2 linked regions of the Homo sapiens genome follow. The protein of the gene in region 2 interacts with the protein of the main gene of each other region in a biochemical or structural test. Each region holds a gene or a part of one and is shown on either strand. Other genes may lie near its edges. The genes, in order: ADRA2B and RAB26.

Evidence for each region.
Region 1: the proteins of RAB26 (region 2) and ADRA2B form a complex in vitro, tested with the Homo sapiens proteins (one study listed by IntAct).

What each region holds. Positions count from the first base shown.
Region 1 is NC_000002.12:96,111,544-96,122,855, forward strand, and holds ADRA2B (alpha-2B adrenergic receptor), read right to left. Parts: upstream 5,029-11,312; 5' UTR 4,607-5,028; coding exon 3,254-4,606; 3' UTR 1,333-3,253; downstream 1-1,332. UniProt on the Homo sapiens protein: Alpha-2 adrenergic receptors mediate the catecholamine-induced inhibition of adenylate cyclase through the action of G proteins.
Region 2 is NC_000016.10:2,142,823-2,153,675, reverse strand, and holds the start of RAB26 (ras-related protein Rab-26), read right to left. Parts: upstream 5,052-10,853; 5' UTR 4,893-5,051; coding exon 4,698-4,892; intron 3,736-4,697; coding exon 3,625-3,735; intron 2,108-3,624; coding exon 2,066-2,107; intron 1,982-2,065; coding exon 1,915-1,981; intron 1,821-1,914; coding exon 1,768-1,820; intron 857-1,767; coding exon 791-856; intron 688-790; coding exon 631-687; intron 531-630; coding exon 454-530; intron 358-453; coding exon 255-357; 3' UTR 1-254. UniProt on the Homo sapiens protein: The small GTPases Rab are key regulators of intracellular membrane trafficking, from the formation of transport vesicles to their fusion with membranes.

The sequences.
Region 1 (11,312 bases), on a different chromosome or scaffold from region 2:
CTTCATCACCTGAATTTCATAGTTTTGTGATTTCAAGACCTAGAGAGGCCACTTTAAGTCTCAATTTCGTTTTTTGTAAAATGATCATTCTCAGCAAGGTTGTGAGGATTAATGAGATAATGTATTCAAAATGGGCTTGCAAACAGTCCTGCTCTAGGAGGGGTACCTTTCCACCACCATTTCCAGAGTCAGGGCAGGGTTCTCTACTCCCAGGCTCAAGGGCCTGCCCCTTGCAGACGCTTAAGCACTGGGGACAATGTGGTCAGCAGAAAGAGCCTGGGCCTGGATGACCTCAAACAGGTCATTACAGCTTTCTCAGCCTGCATTTCTCTAGTATAAAAGGGGCTGATACTTACCTTACAGTCAGGCATAAGGATTAAATGAGGTCATCAGACAAAACCAGAAGAGCCTGGATCAGTAAAAGGGAGTCAATGAACCATCCTCATCACCCACATCAGGCCTCTGGGTGTCAGCAGTGGGTGCTTCGGCAGGTGTGGGAAGCTGAGAGCAGGGCAGGGCATGTCTTTCTTGTTAAGTCCTCAGCAAAGCCCATGTCCCCGTGTCTGTCAGTGATGGTGGGTACACTGGAGGTCTCGCTGGTTGTCCCTAGCAGAAGCATGGCCCACGCCAGTATGGAGGTGGTGAGAGTGAAGATTCTGGGCCAATGTGGAAGTAGAGGGGTGGCCTCACACTGAGGACCCTGGGGCTTCACGTGTCCTCCTTCCTCCCTCCCCTCCCTGGGCTGGCCACTGGCACTGGCCCTGCCCACGGCCTCCTGCTGCCAGCCTGCCATCTGCCCCCCTGCCCATGGGAGCAGGCCCACCTGGTTCAGGCTCCAGGGACTGCCCACTCTGTGGCCACTAAGTAGGGCAGGAAGGCTGTGGCACCAGACCACCCGGGGCTAGCTTGGGGCTGTTTTCAAACCCAGCCACAAATCCACCAATCACATCCTTTACACATGCCCTTCCCCCTACCCAAAACACCCTCCCATCTTGCTTCTTGGTGTACTCCTTCTCTTCCTCCAAGACCCAACCCAAAGGCCACCTCCTCCAGAAAACCCTCCCTTTTTTTCCCTCCCAGGGAGCCAGTCTCAGGCTCCTCCAGCCACCCTCACCCATTGGCTTGTGATGATGAGTAAGGATGCTTTGTGGACAAAGGCGGGTAGGAAGGGCAGGGGCTTGGGGGAACCAGCCAGCCACATCTCGGGGAGGAGAGGACTACTGGCCCTGGGAGGGAGCCCCAGGTCATTAGGCCAGCACCCAGAGTCTGCTGTGCCAGCAGCTGAGGAATAACTGCTCCAGGCAGCCTTTGGGCAACAAGGACACCACTTACTTATTACAAAATATCCTTTATTGATAAAATAGCTCAGAGTTTAAAAAAAAAAAAAACACCACCTGCATGTCGCAATAAGAGGTCACAGGCAAGAACACTGGGGGTCCCATGGGGCGCACACAAGACCGGCCAGCAGAGGGTCACAGTCAGTCCCTCTCCTGGCCCAGCTCCCCACCACATCCCAGGGCGATACTCTGGCCTCAACAACCCACTGAGGACCAAGCTGGGAAGCCTCCCACACCCCAGGAAGGACTCTTTTTGGTCCCCTCCATTCTCTCTACACCCAGAAAACTCCCTCGGTGCCCTTCCAAATCTAGCAGGTCCATCTGGCCCATTCCCCCGACACCTGCCAAGCTAAGATGCCTACTGGCCCAATGTTGAAGCCAGGCCCTCTCCAAGGGAAGGCCGATAAACCTCCTTTCCACACTTCCAACTGTTCTGGGTGCCAGGTTTTGGGGTGGGACTGAGAACCAGGAAGCAGGGGTCCTCAATGCACAGCCCCATCAGCATTGCGGGGAGCAGCGTGGCTGGGTCCGAGGCAGTCCACAAGCACCCACCTGGGGGGATCAGTTGTGGTTCACAAGGACTCATTTGGGGCTTGGAGACCTGGCCGGGCACTCCAGTGGGAGGCTCCCCTAGGGGCGCACCAGGCTCTGATGCCAGTACCCCACCTGGGGGCGCTGCCACCTGTCACAGGCTCTCATCTTAGACTGTTGCCGAGGTGTGGATATTTTGAGCTGTCTTGGGGAGACAATTTGCCTCCTTGATGACAAAAGACTTATCCCCCACTGGGGAGACCCAAGCCACTAAAAACCCTCTTGGTGTTGCCGGTGAAATGTCGAAACGTTGTCATGTAGCGTAATAACTCAGACCTTTGCAGCCAGAAGAACACATTCTCAAAGAGATCCTTTAACTTGAAATAGTGATTCTGTCTGCCACTCCCGGCTTCCAGTTCGGGGTAGGAATTCACACACCCCAGGGACAGAACAAAAGTCTACAGGAAGACAGGTGGTGGTAAACACAGAGGAAAGGGATTTTTATATCACCATATAATCACATTTTTGGTTCTCTAGTGTGTTCCCCCACAGAGCTCAAAGCTTTCTGCAAAGCCTTTCATCTCCCTGCAGCAAGTAGGCAGTGAGCTATTGTCGCCCCGATTTTTGCAGGGGGTGAATGCCAGTGATCGGGGATCTCCCGTCGAGGCAGAGACCAGGCCTCCAAGACCGCCCCAGCGAGGCATCCACGTGGCCACCCACCTACCGGAGGGGTGCTGGGTAAGGAAGCCGATCCATTGTTCTGGCTTTCAAAGGAACCACAGATCCGAAAACAGGCAAAGGGGGAAAGGAGGGCCCAGAGACGATGCCACCCCATAAGCCCCCATCCCAGCGCCTGCCAGGGACCGCGAGTGCCTAGCGTGGGTGATCAGTCTTCGTTTCTTCCTCCCCCTCAGCAGCAGGCCCCACTGGGAAAAGTGGAAGGCTGGCTCCGTGCTCTTTGTGGGTGGGGGGGAGATGAAAAAGAAACGAAAACACCACAAGCAAGTGACCTGCCAGGAACACAAGGTCCTCAAGAAAGGGAAGCCCAGACATTGGTCTGGAGAGCATGGGGCTCTGGGAAGAAAGTGCTCTCTCTTCTCCTGGTCTTGGCTATGTTCCAGAGGATTTGAACCACCTCCATCGGCCTGTGCTCAGGGAGAGGGTGGAGAAGGGGTCCCCCACAGCTAAGCCGGCAAGGGGAAGCTTCACTGGGACCCTTGCTAGCAGCCCCCCTGCCCACCCCTCCCAAGGGGTTCCTAAGATGAGGCCTACAGGATCTGGGCAGGGAGCAGAAAGCCCAGGGGAGGCAGCCACACACAGCAGGGCAAGAAGCAGGGTGACCCCGGCGCCACCGCACCAACCCCACAGGGGCAGCGCAGGCGGGCTCACCAGGCCGTCTGGGTCCACGGGCGGCACAGGATCCTCCGGAAGGCACGGCGGAAGTCCTGGTTGAAGATGGTGTAGATAACAGGGTTCAGTGAGCTGTTGCAGTAGCCGATCCAGAAGAAGAACTGGAAGAGGCCATGGGGCACCTTGCAGTGCTTCGGGCAGATGGCTCCCAGGCTGTAGCTGAAGAAGAAGGGGAACCAGCAGAGCACAAAAACGCCAATGACCACAGCCAGCACGAAGGTGAAGCGCTTCTCCCGGGTCAGCTGCGCCCGTCGACGCCACCACTGCCCACCTATAGCACCCACGCCCCTGCCCAGGAGCACCTGGCCACGTAGGGTGGCCAGCACCCGGGAGCCCTGTGGCTGCTGCAGCGGGGGGCTGCAAGCTGAGGCCGGAGACACTGGCACTGCCTGGGGTTCACACTCTTCCTCCTCCTCCTCCTCCTCTTCCTCCTCTTCAGCTTCATCCTCTGGAGATGCCCCACAAACACCCTCCTTCTGGCCCTGGCCTGAGTTGGGAAGGGCAGCCCAACTGGGTGGCAAGGCCCGGGTCCCAGTATCTTCAGGGGTCTCCCCCTCCTCCTTCTCCCCAGTGGACTTCGAGTGTCCGTTGACCTCTCTGGCAGAAGCCACAGAGGCCAGGGCTGGCAGTTTGGCTGAGGCCAAAGCCCCACCATGGTCGGGTCGGGGCTGCTTGGACTCACCCTGCCCAGGCCCCCCCTTGGCCCTGGGACCTCTGCGGTTGCTGCGTTTGGCGATCAGGTAGATGCGCAGGTAGACAAGGATCATGATGAGGCAAGGAGCAAAGAAAGATCCGATGCTGGAGGCCAGGATGTACCAGGCCTCCTGGTTGAGCTTGCACTGGGGGCGCCCGCGCGGCTGGGGGCCCTGGTCGCCCTTGTAGATGAGGGGCGGCAGCGAGATGACGGCGGCGATGAGCCACACAGTGAGGATGATGCACTTGATGCGGCGCGGGGTGCGCTTGGAGTTGTACTCCAGCGCGCGGCTCACGGCCCAGTAGCGGTCCAGGCTGATGGCGCACAGGTGCACGATGGACGAGGTGCAGAAGAGCACGTCGAGCGCCAGGTACACCTCGCACCACGTGCGCCGGAAGTACCAGTAGCCCAGCAGCTCGTTGGCCAGCGAGAAAGGGATGATGAGCGTGGCCACCAGGATGTCGGCGGCGGCCAGCGACACCAGGAACAGGTTCTGAGGGGCGCGCAGCGAGCGGCTGGTCAACACAGCCAGGATGACCAGAGCGTTGCCGAAGATGGTAAAGAGAATGAGGAAGGTGATGGCCGCCGCTATGGCCGCTGTGGCCTGCACGGAGTAGGGGTCCTGGTGGTCCATGACGGGGCGGGAGGTGGGCAGAGGGAGCGCTGCCCGCCCAGTGCGCACCGTGGACGACAGCGCTGCCCGGCTCGGCTAGACAAGAGCGTCGCCCCTCGGGCGGCGCCGAGGGCGCTGGAGCCCCATGGCCTGGACGAGCGGGGCCTAGGAGGTCGGGAACACCCAGGACCAGCAGCCGCCCTCCTACATCCTCCTCCACCGGTGCCCGGGGTCCCTGCCGTCCGCCCCAGAGAAGTTTCCCAAGTTGTCCCGCCGCCGTCCCCGTCCCGCCCGGGACCGGAGAAAGTCGCGCCCTCCCGCCACGCGGATGCCGTACGCTCTGGGGGCGCGGGCCGGGCTGGGCCGGTTCTTAAAGGAGGCGCGGAGGACCTTGCGCCCGCTCAGCTCGCAGGCTTTCGCCCCAGCCGCGCCTGCAGGGGAGTGGGGAGCGGGGAGAGCGGCTGGAGGAAGGCGGAGACTGGAGGCGGGCGCGGGAGCGGGCGGGAGGCGGGGCGGTGGGCGGACCGAGGTGGGCTGAAGGTGCGCTTCGCGGGAGGCGTGAGCCCGGGACTTCCCGCGCCCGGACCCCGCCCAGCGCCTCTACCTGCCTTCCTCCCGGCGGCCGCGCCTCGGGAGAGCGGAGGGGCCCGGCGGCCGGGGTCTCCGGCCCCCAGGCAGGACGCGCGCAGCTGTGGAGGGGTCGGTGGGTGCCGGGAGCCGGGACGCGGAGCTAGCGCGCGGGCCGGCACCGGGACGGGACACTTCTCCCGGGGGAACCGGGCTGGGCCCGGCGCCGGTGCGCCCTGCTCTGCCTTCCGCCGCTCGGGAGCCCGCAGGGAGGGCAGGGCGGGCGTGGGGCTGGGGCGCCGGGTCGCAATACACCACAACCCCGCCCGGCTCGGCCGTGGAGACGCCCTGCGGAGAGGTGGGGGAGCGGGGAGCGGGGAGCCGGTCCCGACCCTTTCCCAGGCGCTGCCCCTCGCGGACCAGCTCCGTCGGGCCAGCGCCGCGCGAGGAGGGCGCGTCCCGGCCTGCGAGCGCCCCCTGCTGCCGCCCGCGGGCCCAGCCCGTCAGCGGCAGCCCGGGTCCCGGAGCCAGCGCTCGCAGCCTGGGTCTTAGGACTTCGGCTTCTTGTGTCTCCGCAGCTGCCTCAGTTTCCTCCATTAAGGGCAAAGGAGGTAACAGGGAAACTGGCTTGGACTCGAATCACAGCATCAACTGCGATTCAGCCAAGGGTTTGTACGGGGCACAGGGCGAGCTGCCGCCCCTTGACTAATGCGAAGGGGAGGTCCCTTCCTTGCCGTGGGGGAGTAAAGGGTGGGGACTTTGTCACACAGCTCCGAGAAAAAGCAGGTCTCAGGGGCAGCCGTGAAGAGAGGAGCGTCCCTCCGCTTCTGTAGTGACCCCGGGGGAAGGGGTTGACCCTCCCTCCCTGCTGCGGTCCTGCCCCACATACACACTGAAGCCCTTCTGGGGGTGACAGTGGAAAGAGGGTTGGGGTAAAAAGAAACTTCAGACTAAGGCCCCCCACTCGCCTTCAAAGCGCTATGAGCAACTGTTCTCCCTCAGGGCCCCAACTCACTCTCCCTGCCACACCGCCACCAGCACCAGCCTGGGCAGCCCTGAGGGCATGTTTCCCCGGTTCTGGAGCCCCTAATGTCATAAGCCCCGCCTCGAGCCAGGCCTCTTATTCACAGCCCACGACTCTGCAAGGCATCCTCTGTATAAATAAGCACCAATCCACCTCTGACAGTGGGGCTCCCCCAGGCCCCGTCCAACCTGCTGGACCTCCTCTCCTCCCTGCTCCCTCCATGGGAGCAGAGCACGTGGCCTCTCAGTGCCCACGGACAATGTCTAGCGCCTCCCCAGGCTCAGGTGGGAGGTGCCCCGTCTCAGGTACCCAGACCAGCACCCCCAGCCACGGGGGTGTGTTGGGAGTAGGTGCCTCCTTGATCCCCCCATCCCTGTCATTCTGCCAGACTCCCCAGCTTCTGGTGAGGTGCAAGTGCCCACAGCCCATGGGGTGGATGCTGCCAGGGCTGGGTTCGGACAGGGCAATCAGCCTCCTTCCCACCCCCAACCCTAGGCTTCAGCTCAAAACCGACCACTCTGCTAGACACAGTTTCCTGGATGTGTCTTTCCCACCCTCTGGGCTGGGCAGGGCCTGGGCGCCGCCTGGGCATACATAACCAGTGATGGAGAGATGCCAGTAGCTCTTTCCCTGAGGAAGGACAGAGGGTGGCCATGAGAGCCTGGGAGCAGCTACTTAGGCAGGTGCCTGCCTATCCAGGGGCTCCCAAGGCCTTCACAGTCTGGGCCTGCTAGAGGCCCACATGGGCATCGGGAGGAACCGCCTTTCCACTGTCTCCAACCACACTTGGGCTGGGGGCCAGTGAGCAGCTCCCCAGACTCTGCAGCCAGCATCAGCCTTTGTCTTCTGACCCATCTTCCTTCAAGGGATGCTGCAGGAGCTGAGACTGGGTTGCCCGTGTGCCCTCCCCACCCTGCAAGTCCCCACTGAGGACGCTTACCTGGGCCTTCCTAGAAGTGACAACTTTGGGTCTACTGAGTGCCAAGCCTTGCTAGGCATCTTTCATTGGGCCAGCTAGGCACTAGGCCAGGTGGGGACAGCCAGGGACAGAGTCTACAGCTGGCAGACCTGGGAGATGTGTGCCCTCCGGGCAGCAGGAGCTGCCTTGGCATCCATACCGCTGCCCCAGGCTGTCACCGTCTACTGCAGCTGTCTCCTCCTGGCTCCACCCCAGGATGGACAAGTGCAGCGTGGGTGCGCCAGCTCTCCACGGCCACGCAGGCCATAACATAACTCAGCTCCTGCTCCTCTCGGCGGCTCACCATCTCCCCCCGCACACACACACCTTCAGGCCTTGCCTGCTCCAACCAGCCCCATGAGGCTGCCAGGTGCAGGAATTGGAGCCTACTAGCATAGCAAGGCTTCCTTCAGCTCTTCCCAAACTAGACCTGACCTTCCACTGTCATCCTGTTCCACAGGAACGGGCATAGTTCAGTCCCAGACCAGCAACAGCCAGCAGCAGGAGCAGCCGGAGCTTTCCCAGACACATAGCAGGGGAGTGGGCAGCAGGGCACAACCTGGATCCCAGCCCTCCATCCCTGCCCCGCCAGGCCAGTGTTGGATTCTGAATGTGCCCTGGGTCTCCACTCTCTAGACCTTCCCTGGGGCTGTTTGCTCTGATAGAGATGCCCTATCACCCTTCCTTCTGTGTTTGGTGGGCTCCTACTCACATTTCAAGGCCCACTCACCAGTCACCAGGCTCTCAGGCAGAGGGAGGACCTCCATTCTCCAGGTTCCTCGACGCCAGGCGGCACCACTTTCACACTCAGCACACTGTACTAAGATGCTCTCTGATGGGTTTGTTGCATCACCTCTGCCCATCAGAGTGGACATCCCTTCTCTGTCCCCAGTACCTGGCACAAGGTCATTGGCCGTGAGGGACAGTGGCAGCAGGCAACAGTGCACTCATACACATGAGCATTCTAAGACAGATAGCCCAAATGAGGGTGCCCTGGAGGGATGTCCTTGGGAAGAGGGGCCATGGGGAAAGGACCTAGCCATGGAAGCGATCCACCTTTTCCAAAGAAGGGCAAGACTGTTGTCCCATTGCTGGCTGTGAGACCTTAGTTGGAAGCCATGGAGACACTTCTCCAGGCCTGAGAGGTGAGATGGTGCCACCAGATCTCCTGGGCTGGGGCTCCAGCAGCTCACAACGGTGCCTTCCCTCCCCTAAGGGCCCACTGGGACAGACCCCCATCAGGCCACACACCCCACCTTTCTCCAGATGTACCCCGCCCCCCACCAGCCTTTCAGTCCCTGGGACTCTTAACCCCAGACCATCCTGTATGCCCCAACCTCCCCACTTCCCAGATCCTTGGGTCGTGTCCTCTATAATAGAAGTCAGTCGTCCTCTCTGCATAAAGATCTTGACAAAACCCCAGCTCTGGTCAAACCTAAATCATCCACCCACTGCCTGCCTTTGACCAAGCAGCTGCTCTTTCCGGAGCAAAACACTCTCTGCATCGACTGGCCTCACTCTAAATTCATGACCACAAATCTCCAAACTTCCCTAGTATGCTCACTTTCCCACTTGTTAAAATCGGCATCCCTCCCTCCCTCTCCAACCTCCCAGCCACTCCTCCGCCCCACCATGCTGTGACTCTGCCTGGTACTTAGGGGGAAACGGAAGTCCAGGCAGGAACTCACCCCCGCCGCCCACCTGCATCTGGCCTCAAACTCTCTCTGCTGATTGAAGGGCAAGTCCTCAACCTATGCCCTAGAGCCCAACCCCTCTCATCTCACCCCAGGGTTCCCCCGCTTCAGTTATCCCCCTCTTATGGTCACTGCCCCTACTCTACAAAGCCAGCCCCACCCCTTAGAACTGCCCCCCAAGCCCCATCACCTTTCTGCTGCCTCCCATAGCCACCTTCCCCCCGTGTCTGTATCCAGGCACTGTGGCTGACCCCTCACATTCTCTCCTTAACCCCCGGCAGGTCATCTTCAGACCCTCCACCGAGGGTCTTCTGTGGGTCATGCCCTACTCCACATCACCAAGCACCAGGCTTATTCTGCCCTCTTTCTCAGCAGCACTTGGCACAGCAGCCCTTCCCCTGGAACACTCACAGGGTCTGTGACCGCCTTGAAAGCCACTCCTCTGCAGCCCTTTCTTCTCCCAAACTCTTAAGTCAGAGGTTCTTGCTAAGAGTGATTCTCCTCCTCTAAAGGACGTTCGGCAATGTCTGGAATACAGGGAGGGGGCCGCTATTGGCATCTGTGGGTAGAAGCCAAAGATGCTGCCAAATGTCCTGCAAGGTTCAGGGCCGTCCCCACAATAAAGAATTACCAGGTACAAAATGCTGCAACGCTGAAATTAAGAAATGCTGCTCTAAATGCAGCAACCCAGCTCAGTCCGGGGATCCTTCCTCTTCCTCTACACGTGTGGCTCCCCTCCAGATTCGACAGCACTCCCCCAGGCACCTCCTGCCCTGCTCTCCCCGCTGAACCCCAGACTCCTTCAGCCCACCTACTCTCTGACCCCTTTGATGTCGCATGGACACCTCAGACCTGACATACCCATTTCCCCCAGCCCTGCCTTGCCCCGAGGTCCTCAGTGCTGGATTCTCAGTGAATGGTGCAGCTCCCACCCAGAGCCTGTGCCCTCACCCCATGCATGCAATCACAAGTGGGGCCACTGTGACCCCTAAACACTCCAAAGGCACCTGCTCCTGTCCATCTCTGTAGCCTCTCTCCCTTGCATAACCTCAGTGGCTTCCCGGCTGTTCTGCTTCCAGCCCATTCTCCAGAATGCATCGAGGACGTTTTAAACCTTAAGTCGGATGTGGCACCATCTTCCTTCAAACCTTCCAGTAGTTGCTGCCTGTTGCTTGTGGAATAAAACCCTCCCCATCTCTGACTTGGCTGTGGGCCCCTCCCCATGCCAGTTACACAGACCCAACACACCTTGCTTTCCCCTGCCTCAGGGCCTTTGCACTGGCTACTCAGGAATTCAGGAAATTCAGTTCCTGAATTTTCACAGGCAGCCTCCTGCCATTTAGGGCTAGGCTGAAATGTCACATCCTCAGAGGGGCCCTTCCTAACCAGCAGCCTAAGGGGGTGCTCTGCTCTGCCATCATTTGCCAATGCCAGATGTTTTCTGGTTTGCTGACTTATTGTCCAACCCTCCCCACCCTGAATAAGCTCCACGAGAAGAGGAACCCACCTTGCTCACTGCTATTCCCAGCAGAACAGAGACTGCCTACCTGGTATGTTGGATGAGTGAACAAATTGAGCCTACACAGCTGCATGGTCGGTGACTGGGGAGGTGAACAAGCCACAGACCCCTGGGAGGGGATGGCTAGCCGCCTGGGCTTGGTTTACACCCCAGGGCCCTGTACCCCTCCCACCACCCAGGCTGGGGCTCAAACGACTGAACCTTGTCCCTGTGCTCCCCTTAAGCCACCAGGCTCAGACAAGTGGCATCTTCAAGAGAACAAGATCGGAGACCAAGAGACAAATCCCAATGGAGGCTGGTGACGGGTGGCCCGAGCCCCAGGGTCCTCCCTGGGTACGAAGCACAGCACCTCCTTCCACCCAACAGCAGAGGCCGAGAGGAGTGCAAGCCTCTCTACTGTCCTTGATAAATGGGGCACTGCATGTACTGCCTCTGTCCTAGGGCTGCCTCAAGGTCTCTGCCTGGAAGCCTCCCAGCGGGGCTGTCCCCTACTCCTTGGGGCATGGCCAGAGCCCCTATCCACTCTACACTCACGCAGACCCCACTCCCCCAGCCAGGAGCAAGAGGAAGAACAGCACCTCCCTGCAGTCCTTCCCTTGTGCTAATGCCTGGGACTGGGCCACTGTTCAGTCTCAGGGTTCATGACTCATGACTGAAACCCAAGGCCGACTGAAGGTAGAGGACACAGTGTCCCCTGAGTGCATCCCCATGTCCTCAATGCGGCCCCAGCACGTGACCCTCCAGAAGGCTGGCAAACAGCAACCTCTCCCCAGAACTTGGGAACTCCAAGCTTCAGCCCTGCCCTGCTGCTTCTTGGCCAGGACCCCTGGAGCACTCGCTGAAGTCTTTGTCTTCCCTGGGAGGTGGGATAGCCACCTGGGGCCCCAGAGGGCAAGGGGTGTTAAAGGCACACAGGAGGTGGGAAGGTCAGCACAGCACACTCCACTTTATTTCCTCCCCCAACA
Region 2 (10,853 bases):
GTCCACTTGCCGCTCCCCGTCCCGTGCAGAAGACTGCTTTTCCGTGGCGGCCAGTGTGCGGCCACGGGCTCTCAGAAGCCTGCTTGTTGGGACTGTTGCTGGGAGGAGGAAGGGACAAGGCTTGACCTGGGGCTCCTGAAAACAGACACTCGGGCGTTGGCCACTGGGCAACAAAGTCAGAAGGGCCTGGAGACCCTCTGTCCAGCCTTCTAGGGACTGGACGGCTTCCTCCAGAGGACTGAGCTCAGCCAGGTTCAAGGGCGGCAGCAGGAGGCCCCTCGACCCTCCCTCTTAACGTAATCATGCAGCCGGAAGCGCGGCTCGCTGGGAGCCTTCATGGAGCGCTGCTTCAACTCCCTGCGGAGTGGGGGTGACAAGGGGACACGATGGCCTGGACTCTAATGAGGATTCAGGCCCTGGGCTGGGGGAGTCCTGGTGACTGGCAGGACTTACTTTGCTATGGCTGTGAAGGCCAAGTCCACGTTGAGGCCCGTCTTGGCGCTGGTCTCCATGAAGGGCAGTCCATACTCCTGTAAACAGCTGCTGCCAGCCAGGTGGTGGCCTGGCGGGGACAGCCTAGGCTCGCAGCCTCCAGGGGCACCCCCTCACCACCCCCCTGCCCTGACTCACCTTGGCCAGCTTCTCCCCGTCCTCCCTCTTCACCACACGCTCATGGGCAGAGTCCACCTGGCCCAGGCACAGGGTCTTGGTGAAAGCTGGCCCATGGTTGGCCCCTGCCCCCTCACCTGCCCTGCCCTGTGGCCCAGGTGAGGACAGCCGGGCCTCCCACCTTGTTCCCCAGCAGCATGAGCGCCACGTCGTGCTGGGCGTACTCGTGGATCTCGGTCAGCCAGGCCTGTGGGAGGCAGCAGACCAGGCTGGGGCTCCCTGCATGGCTTGCCCCATGCCCCAGAACTTTGGCCCTCCAGGTCACACTGTAGAGGGCACCTGTCTTTATCTTTTTTTTTTTTTTTTTTTTTTTGAGACAAGAGTCTCGCCCTGTTTCCCAGGCTGGAGTGCAATGGCTCCATCTCGACTCACTGCAGTCTCCATCTCCTGGGTTCAAGCTATTCTCCTGGGGTTCAGAGAACCTTGGGAGGGTTCAGCCTCCCAAGTGACTGGGATTACAGTTACGCACCACCACGCCCAGCTAATTTTTTGTATCTTTAGTAGAGACGGGGTTTCACCATGTTGATCAGGCTGGTCTCCAACTCCTGACCTCGTGATCCGCCCACCTCAGCCTCCCAAGGTGGTGGGATTACAGGTGTGAGCCACCATGCCCAGCCCATTTTATTTTTTTGAGACAGTTTTGCTCTGTTGTCCAGGCTGGAGTGCCGTAGCACAGTCTTGGCTCACTGCAACCTCAGTCTCCTGAGTAGCTGGGATTACAGGTGTGTGCCAAAACGCCCGGCTAATTTTTGTATTTTTAGTAGAGATGGGGTTTCCTCATGTTGGCCAGGCTGGTCTCGAACTCCTGACCTCAGGTGAGCCGCCATGCCTGGCCAGGATACCTGTCTTTAGAAGTGATAACCCCCCGTGTACCACATACAGAAGCCCACCTTACAGGTCCCTTACACAAAGCCTCCTGCTGAGGGAGCTGGAATGGCACTCAGGTCCACTTGGGCCACCTCCAGCCCAGAAGGCTGTCATTTCCCCCTCCCCTCTCTCAGCGGGGTCCTTTGGAACCCTGATGCCATCTACCAGAAGGAGGTTGGGATGGGTCAGGCCCTATCAGGGCCCTTTCACCCCACCAGGAAAGCCACTGACCTGGATGTTGTCAAAGGAGGCCTTGTTGGTGACATCGTAGAGCAGCAGCAGAGCTGGGGACAGAGGGCAGTGAGGACATCCACCATCACCTGCACCCTCAGGTGCTCAGACCCCCGCCCCAACCAGCCCAGGTACCCAGGGGCTCACCATGAGCATCCCGGTAGTAGGCATGGGTAACACTGCGGAACCGCTCCTGACCAGCTGTGTCCCACATCTGCAGCGACAGGCACTGGTCAGGCTGTCCAGCCCTTCCCTGGTGTCCCCTGTCCCCCAACTTGTCCTCTGCCAGTCACCTTACCTGCAGCTTCACCTTCACACCATCCACGTCCAGAACTTTGTTCTGAAACAGACAGAACCAGGCAGCTCTGGCATGGGCCCAGCCCAGCCTCTGGTCCCACTAGCTTCACTGCCTTCCTGTCCCCTGAGACCTCCCAGCTCCCAGGTCCAGCCCAGCCCCTGCAGGCTTCCCTTAAGCCAATTTGACCTCACCCACACCTGCAAGTGCAGGCCTCTCCCGGCAGCCTCTGCACTATTCCTGCTTAGAGCCTCTTACGCTGACTTATTTGAACTCATGACCCCACCAGGCCTCTTACTGACACTGCCTCGGTTTCCTCATCTGCAAATGGGTGCAGTAACTAACGAGCTGCAACGCCTCAGCCTTCCCAGTAGCTCTTTTTGCTAATTTGAAAGACTCAGGATGGCTTGAACCCAGAAGTTGGAGGTTGCAGTCCACCATGATCACCACTGCACTCCAGCCAGGGCGACAGAGTGAGACCCTGCTTCAAAAGAATAAAAAATTAAAGCCACTCCTTGCTGGGATTGTCAGGGCTGGGCCTGGGCCTGTCTGACCCAAGGCAGTAACCGCAGATCCCAGAACTGCCTGGCAGCGTCCCCAGCCGGGCCCTCCCAGTTAACGATTAGACGTAAGGCAGGGAGTGGTCTAGCCCCAGTCCCATCTGTTGGGGTGGGGGCGGGGGGCTTCAGCCGCAGTCTGAGGCCCTGGGCAGCTGGAACCTGTGCCACCTCCTTCAGCCTGAGCTCCTGCTGTCAGAGTGCTTCTGGGTCTCCCGGGAACCAGGCAGGGCCATCTGCTGGGCTGGGGAGGACACCGCCTTCCCTGGCACCCTGAACGAGAGTGCGAACCAAATGGCCTCACCTCTTACCACCTGCCCGAGAGCCAAGAGGGAGGTGGGGAAGTGGGGACCAGACAGGACTGGCCTGCCCCCCTCGGGCACTTCAGTCGTCACTCCATCCCAGAGGACTTGAGGGGACTTGGAACCCCCAGACTGGAGGGAGCCCCTTTTCCTGTCCCTGGAACAGCCCTTCCTCCATCCTCCCTCTAACTGGCTCTAATTAAAGGGTGAGAAAAATGCAAATTTAAGATTTGCTGAGGACAAGCCGGCACCTCAGCACGAGGAATTCCAGCTGGTGGGGGTGGGGGTGGGCGCTCCTCACCCAAGAGCAGGGTCCTCTCCCCTAGGCAAGCCCTGGAAACCCTCGCTCAGGCTCTGCAGGGAGCATGTGCTTCTAGGGCCCAGTAAGGCCTCTGTACCGAGGCAGCACTGCTGGCCCCAAGTGGACGTGGCCCTTGACTTCCTCTGACCCACCACCCTGTAGGCAACAGTGTCCGCCTCCCCCAAGGCACAGGATATGGTCCCTCGGTAATGCCAGCCCCTGGCATAGGGCAACTAACTATGCTTGTCGGGTGCAGCCACCAGCCCAGGTGTTGGAAGGTCGAGGCAGGCAGCTTCTGGGGTCCAGGCCTCGAGCCTGTTGGTACCATGGGGATCAGAGAGAACTTGCTGCTCGGGTACCGGCGGGACTCTGATGTGGGGCCAGGCCAGGGCCTCCACTCACCCGGAAGTCAATGCCTACGGTGGAGATGAAGGTCCCCGCCAGGAAAGCACCATCCTTGAATCGCACCAGCAGACAGGTCTTCCCCACACCCGAGTCCCCCACCAGCATGACCTAGGACAAGCAGGAGGGTTGGGGGGAGTCTGGTCTGCCCTGAGCTGGCCTGGTCAGAAGGGGGCTGCAGGTGAGGAGCAGGAGTGGAGGGAGGCAGCCCAGGCCTGCAGGCTCAGCGGGGCCAGGGACCCCGATGGGCTGGACACCCAGCGTATGCCTCTGAAAGGCTGGGGCTGCTCTGTCCTTCTGCACAGTGGCCGTCTCAGTCAGCGGGGAGTGAGGGCAGCCACCTGCATCCCGGACCCTCCCTAACGTCCATACCCCCACACGGTGGACAGCATCTGGGAGGGGAGCAGGTGGGGTGGCAGCTGGGTACCTCCTAAGAGACTTGGGGAGGCCTCTGCCGGGGGCTTCTCCACATCCCAGTAGGGACATGACCCCAGCAAGGCTCGAGGAATTTGCCCCATTAGGATCAGATCTCGATCTGAAGAGGGACCTGGGCCAAGTCTGAGGTTGGGGGGAGGTGCAAGTGGGCAGCAGTCAGGCCTTCTCCCCGAAACCTGTGCTACCAAACCCAAAATGGTCCTCCCAGCCCCCTGCCAAGTCCACACAGCCTCTGCCTTGGTCTGGAGTCCCAGGGTTCCCCATCCATCTGGCAAACCTCTTCCCCCCAGCAAAAAAAAAAAAAAAAAAAAAAGGCCCACAGCCGCTGGGTTGAGGGAGGGCAGCATACGGGAAATGGTGAGACCCCGGGCGGGGGCCAGGGCACTGGGGCGCGGGACCCCTTGTGCCACCATGCCGCCTGGGGGGTGGGGGACAGGCCCTGCCAGCTGTTGGATACCCCAGACCTGGGATGGACAGCTGTGTGTGCACGATGCACCGTGCAAGCCCCACGGGGTTCCTCCCGCGTCGGCTCCGCGCCCTGGGGCCGCGGGCCCTGCACCCCCTGTCCGACCCCCAACCCTTGGCTCAGGCCGGGCGCCACCTGCTGCGCTGGCCTGGGGGGCGGGTGCCTGGCTCACCTTGAAGGCGACGTCGTAGAAGTCGACACCGCCGCCAAGCGAGGGCCGGCCGGGCTGCAAGGGCCCGTTGGGCGGCGCGTCGGGGCCGGAAAGCGCAGTCCCGGAGCGCGCCGGTCGGGCCCCGTTGGCGGTGGGCAGCGTGGAGGCAGCGGGGGTGCTGGCCCCTTTGCTCTTGGGGGTCTTCTTCCTGGACATGGCGGGCGGGCGCTCAGTGTGCTCCCGCTGCAGCCGCCGTGCCCTGGGCCGTCCCGCACCCCGCGCCCGCCGAGCCCGACCCGGACCCGAACCCTTCCCCTGGCGGCGGCGGCGGCGGCGGCGGCGGCGGCGGCATCATCCCGGGCGCCCGGCTCGCGCCCCGCCCCCGCCGCTCCACGGGCGCGCAGCCACTCAGGCCCGGCCTCCCGCCGCCGCCGCCAATGCCGTGCGTGGGGCGGGGACATGCAAATACACCCCCGCTCGGCGGGGGGTGGGGGGCGGTCAGGAGGTCCGGGCCCCGTCCCGCCCCCGATCACGACCCCTGCCCGTGGCTGCCTTGGGGCCAGGAGCCAGCTGTGGGGTGACAGGCCTGGGCCAGGAGTCACCCCGGGATCCTGAATCCCCTCTGCTGGCTGCACACCACCCCAGCTCGGTGACCCCCAAACTGGACCGCCAGACCTGGGAGGAAGGGGTGTCCTGAGATGTGGGTGCTGGGGCAGAGGGCCCGCATGGACGGGCACCGCGGGCTTCTGTCTCCTTAGCCCCAGATGCCTAGCGCTTGGCCCGGTGCCCTTCACTGCTCCATCCCCTCCAGGGTAGGCGGGTCCAGGAAGCTCCAGCCCTGGCTTGGCAAACACACCAGGCTGCTGGGGCAGGCGCCCTGGGCTCAGGTGACAGCTGGTCACCGGGAGGACACAGCGGGCGCTGCGATCTCCCCCACAGCTTCTGCCTGCTGTGCACGCCTGGGGATCTGCGGGAAGGAGGAAGTCGCTGTGGCAGCCAGCCCCCGGCCCCCTGAGGGTCCCCTCCCACGGGACTCTGCCCTCAGGGTCTGAAAGGTGGAAAGCAGAGGCCCCTGCCCAGGCTGTGTGGCTGGCCCCTTGTCCTTCTCCTCCAGGTTCGGACCTTCAGGTGGCCAGGGCCGATTCTCCAAATCCTAAGCTGGTCCCTGGCAGACCCACCTCCCCAACCTGGGCTGCACTGGAGCTCTGTCACCCCCTCTCACAGAGAAGATGGGACTGCAGTGGTCAGAGCTGGGGCACAGTGGTCCAGAGGGGTGGTGTCCTTGGCATGCAGGGGCTTCTTGGTGTTTCTTTGGGAGCTGGAGAGATGACCCAGCTGTCCCCGGAGACCTGACAGCTGTCACCAGGACCTTGGGCCCTTCAGAGACCTGAGCCCTCCCAGCTGGCAGTGCCCAGAGTCCAAACAATTGGCTGCCTCTCGGGTCAGAGGCCTGAGAAAACACAGATGGGGGGCACTGCCCAGCAGAGTGATTCCTCGAGAGGGCCTGGCAGAGGCCGTGGAAGCCTGCCCTACAGCAAGCACTGTTGTGTGCCAGGCACACGACCTCTTCAAAGTTATCCTGCAAGGTGGGTACTGCCCTCAGTGTCCAGATGGGGAAACCGAGGCCCAGAAAGGCAAGGAGCCTGTGCAAGGTCAGCAGGCTAGGAAGGGCAGAGCTAGGATTTGTTCCTGTGATCTCCAGCTCCAGAGAACATAAACCGTCCCATGGCAGAAATCCCTGTAGACTTAATCCCCAGGAACCTGGCAGAGCTGGGGGTCAAACCCGGAAGCCCTCTCAGAACCCTTCCTTGTCTCACTCCTCTGGCCCCCCAGCTCTTCCAGACCAACCCCCAGTGTGTGTGCACTGGGCCTGGGTAGAGGCATTTAGCTTCTGCAGCTGCAGCCCTGGGGACTCCAGGTGTCCACCCGCGCTACAAGGCCTCTTTCAGGATGGCTGGCCCAGGGTCTGAGCTGGGGGCCTCAGCAGCTGCTGTGCACTGGCCCCAGGGTCCTGGGCAGTGGACTCCCAGTCCAGTGGACCCCGTCCTGCCAGCTGCTGCTCAGGTACCCCCAGGGCGCGGGCAGCAGGAGGAGTTGGGTGCAAGTAGGGCATCCTGCAGGGGGAGGAGTGCGGATGGGGCCCCCAGGAAGAGAAGGAGGCAGGCGCGCTGGAGAAAGTGGGAGGCCAGGCGGGGAGGGGAGCCTTGAGAGAGCAGAGGAAACGGGCTTGCGCTGGCAACCTTTAAAATTAGGAGAGTTTACATAAAAATCCAAGTCTCTGGTTTCTCTTGAAAATGGGGAGCTCTGGGTGCCTGCATCACAGACCCCTCTCTTGGCTTCCAGCAGGCCTCGGAATCTTTGATCATTATGTCTCTTGGTTGCTGTGTTTGCCATCTGTTTCACCCTCTGGAGTGTAAGCTCTCCGGGCACAGGAAGCAGCTTGTCTTGGTCAACTGCTGTCCCCAGCAGCCAGCTCTGGGCCTCCATAAGCAGTTATTAAATTGGTGAAAGAGGTGTGGTGGCTCACGCCTGTAATCCCAGCACTTTGGGAGGCTGAGCAGGCAGATCACTTGAGGCCAGGAGTTTGAGACCAGCCTGGCCAACATGGTGAAACCCCGTCTCTACTAAAAATACAAAAATTAGCTGGGCCTGGTGGCATACGCCTGTAATCCCAGCTACTCGGGAGGCTGAGGCAGGAGAATCGCTTGACCCCAGGAGGAGGAGGTTGCAGTGAGCTGAGATTGTGCTGTTGCATTCCAGCCTGGGTGACAGAGCGAGACTCTGGGGAAAAAAAAAAGAAAGAAAAGAAAAGAGAAAGAAATGTGACTTAGAAACACAGGCCTCACTTCAGGAGGACATGTCCTTGCTAACAAAGATTTAAGGCAAGTGTGATCAGTAGTGAGGGCAAGGCTTCTGGGGGAGGGAGGGTTTGCACTGGGCTTTGAGGATTGAGCTAGAGTCCGACACGAGAGAGAAAGACAGTCCCCAGGTGGAGGGAGTCAATATGCATAGGCTGAGAGTGCTAGGAGATGGGCACTTTGTGCCGAGGTGGCCAAAGTGTGGCCCAGTTCCTTGGAGGAAACGGGAGGTAATCAAGCTGGTAAGGTAGGATGGGGTCAGCTGGGAAGGGAAACCTGAGTGTTATTCCTAGGAGCTTGGAAATTGTACAGCGGGAAGTAGAGAGCTGTGCGTGGCTTTTGAGCAGAACAACAGAGGACGCTGTGCTACAGGAATATTGGGGACTGGCAGGAGGGGATGGATGGTGGAGCCTGTAGGCCTGGAGATGAGATTGATGGGGGTTGCAGTCACCCAGGGGAGGGATAATAGGAACAGAGAGGACCTTCAGGAAAGAAGCTGTAGGCCTGGAGGCAGGGAGGGGAGGGTCAGAGTCCATGCCCATGGGCAGAGACCAGTGGGATGCTGCAGTGGGTTAAAGATGGATTAAACCCCAGCACTTTGGGAGGCCGGGGCGGGCGGATCACCTGAGATCGGGAGTTCGAGACCAGCCTGGCCAACATGGAGAAACCCCGTCTCTACTAAAAATACAAAATTAGCCAGGTGTGGTGGCGGGCGCCTGTAGTCCCAGCTACTCAGGAGGCTGAGGCAGGAGAATCGCTTGAACCCAGGAGGCGGAGGTTGTGGTGAGCCGAGATCGCGCCATCGTACTCCAGCCTGGGCGACAAGAGCGAAACTTGGTCTCCACAAAAAAAAAAAAAAAAAAGGCCGGGCGCGGTGGCTCACGCCTGTAATCCCAGCAGCACTTTGGGAGGCCGAGGCAGGCAGACCACGAGGTCAGGAGATCAAGACCATCCTGGCTAACACAGTGAAACCCTGTCTCTACTAAAAATACAAAAAATTAGCCGGGTGTGGTGGCGGGCGCCTGTAGTCCCAGCTACTCGGGAGGCTGCGGCAGCAGAATGGCGTGAACCCGGGAGGTGGAACTTGCAGTGAGCGGAGATCGCACCACCACACTCCAGCCTGGGCGACGGAACAAGACTCCATCTCAAAAAACAACAACAACAACAACAAATAAAACTAGAAAAACTAGAACAGGCAGCCAGCGAGGGCAAGGCGGGGGCCGGCGAGGGCAAGGCGGGGGCCGGCGAGGGCAAGGCGGGGGCCGGCATGGTGGGAAAGTTCAGCAGGGAGGCCTTGGGATGTCCGGATTCTTGGCATCTTCAGACCTGGAGAAGAGAGGAGTCCTGTGGGCCAGGGCAGGTCCCTGAGACAGGGTCCGAGTTTGAGATGGGCCCTGGGAGCTGGGGGCGGAGAGTGAGGTCCGTGTTCCCCTGGGAGGGGTGCTACAGCCCCCCACCCTTCTGGTGCAGAGCTGGCTCTTCCAGGGAGGGGAAGGTCTCCACGGGTTCCTGTCCTCGAGCGGAGAGAGCGCCCTGGGTCTCCTTGGGGCCTTGCTCTGGGACTTTCGCTCCTGTTACCTTCTGACGGCCCGGCCCCCTGGCATCCTTACACCGTGCCCTCTAACTCCTGCCAGTTCCTTCTGACCGTCCTGGGTGTCTGGAAGGATGTGTGCTGTGAGCCCCCAGCCAAAACGACCCCTGGGAGCCATGGATCAGGACAGTCTCTTTCTGGCCCCCATTTTCCAGCCTCTTCCCTACACTCTGCCCCCAGAGTGGGGCCCTCGGGCTGGCCCTTGTGTGCCAGGAGAGGGGGCGCAGGCACGAGTGAGGCCTCCTCAGGCTTCCAGACTCTGCCTGGAGCCCCACCCTCAAGGGAGCCTGCCCTGGCTCCTCCTGCCCCACTTCTGGCTCCCTGGATGCTCTCCAGCCCTTCCCCAGCGGCTGCATGGCCGCTGTAGCAGCCTGGGAGCCTCCTGAGGACAGGGCCCTGTCCTGCCTACTCCTGTTCCCGCCAGGCACTCGAGCGAGAGCTCTGTGGCTGAGCAGCAGAGAGCTGGGTTGGACTTCAAGGGGCTCTTAGCAAGCCAGGGAGTGGCAAAGCCGCCACGGCCTGTGCCCCCAGGGCACCTCCCAAGACCCTCCTCTGGAGCTCAGCGGTCTGTGCCCTCCGCGGGGTCCCCGGCTTGCTATGTGCCCCTGGGCACGTGGCATTCCCTGTCTGGGCCTGCTCCCCTCTCCATGAAATGAGGGGGCAGGAGGAGCCGATCTCTGAGGTCCCTTCCAGCTCAAACACCTTATGTTCTATGAAATCCGTGTGAACGTTGCCATGGAGACGTTGGAGGAACTGCGGCAGCACTGAACGCAACTTCCACCCGAGAGAGGAGCACTGAGTCACCCCAGCACGTGGGTGACATCACAGGTAAGCTCTCTCCGGTGTCCAGGTGTGCAGCAGTCTGGTGTCCTCCTGAGAGGTCACCCCCCTTCAGCCTGCTCACCATGGTGGCCCTGAGGCCCTACCGGGTGGGTCGGGACAAACAGGTGTCCATCCCTGCCCGAATGGGGACCCTTTGTCTGTTGCCTGCAGACGTGACCACAGTGACTCAGGTGCTCCCAGACGGGAAGGCAGCAGAGGTGATCTGCCACACAGAAGATGAGCTAACGGGGGAGTCATGTGCGCCTCTGTGGCTGTCAGAGCAGTATCCTCACTCCTACGGAGCCAGTTGCCTGCTCTCAGCAGTGCTGGCTTCCTGCGCCTGAGCTGAGTGAGGGTGTCCGCTTAGCCATTGGAGGAGGCAGCATCAGGGCTCCTGGCTGCAGGCTCTCCCGGCAGCCTCAGAGTGACACACATGGCCTCACGGCAGGTGCAGGGATCCCTGTCGATGAACAAAACAGACCCCTGCGTAACCGTAACAATCACTGACTACCCCGGACTGCACCAAGTGCTTTCCTTGCAACGTTTCTCTCTTTTTTTTTTTGAGATGGAGTCTTGCTGTGTCACTCAGGCTGGAGTGCAATGGCGCCATCTCGATCTCGGCTCACTACAACCTCTGCCTCCCAGGTTCAGGCAATTCTCCTGCCTCAGCCTTCCGAGTAGCTGGGATTACAAGTGTCCACCACCACGCCCGGCTAATTTTTGTATTTTAGTAGAGACAGGGTTTCACCATGTTGGCCAGGCTGGTCTTGAACTCCTAACCTCAGGTGATCCACCCGCCTCGGCCTCCCAAAGTGCTGGGATTACAGGTGCCCACCACCACGCCTGGCTAATTGTTTTTTTTTTTTTTTTTTTTTTTTGAGACGGAGTCTGGCTCTCGCCCAGGCT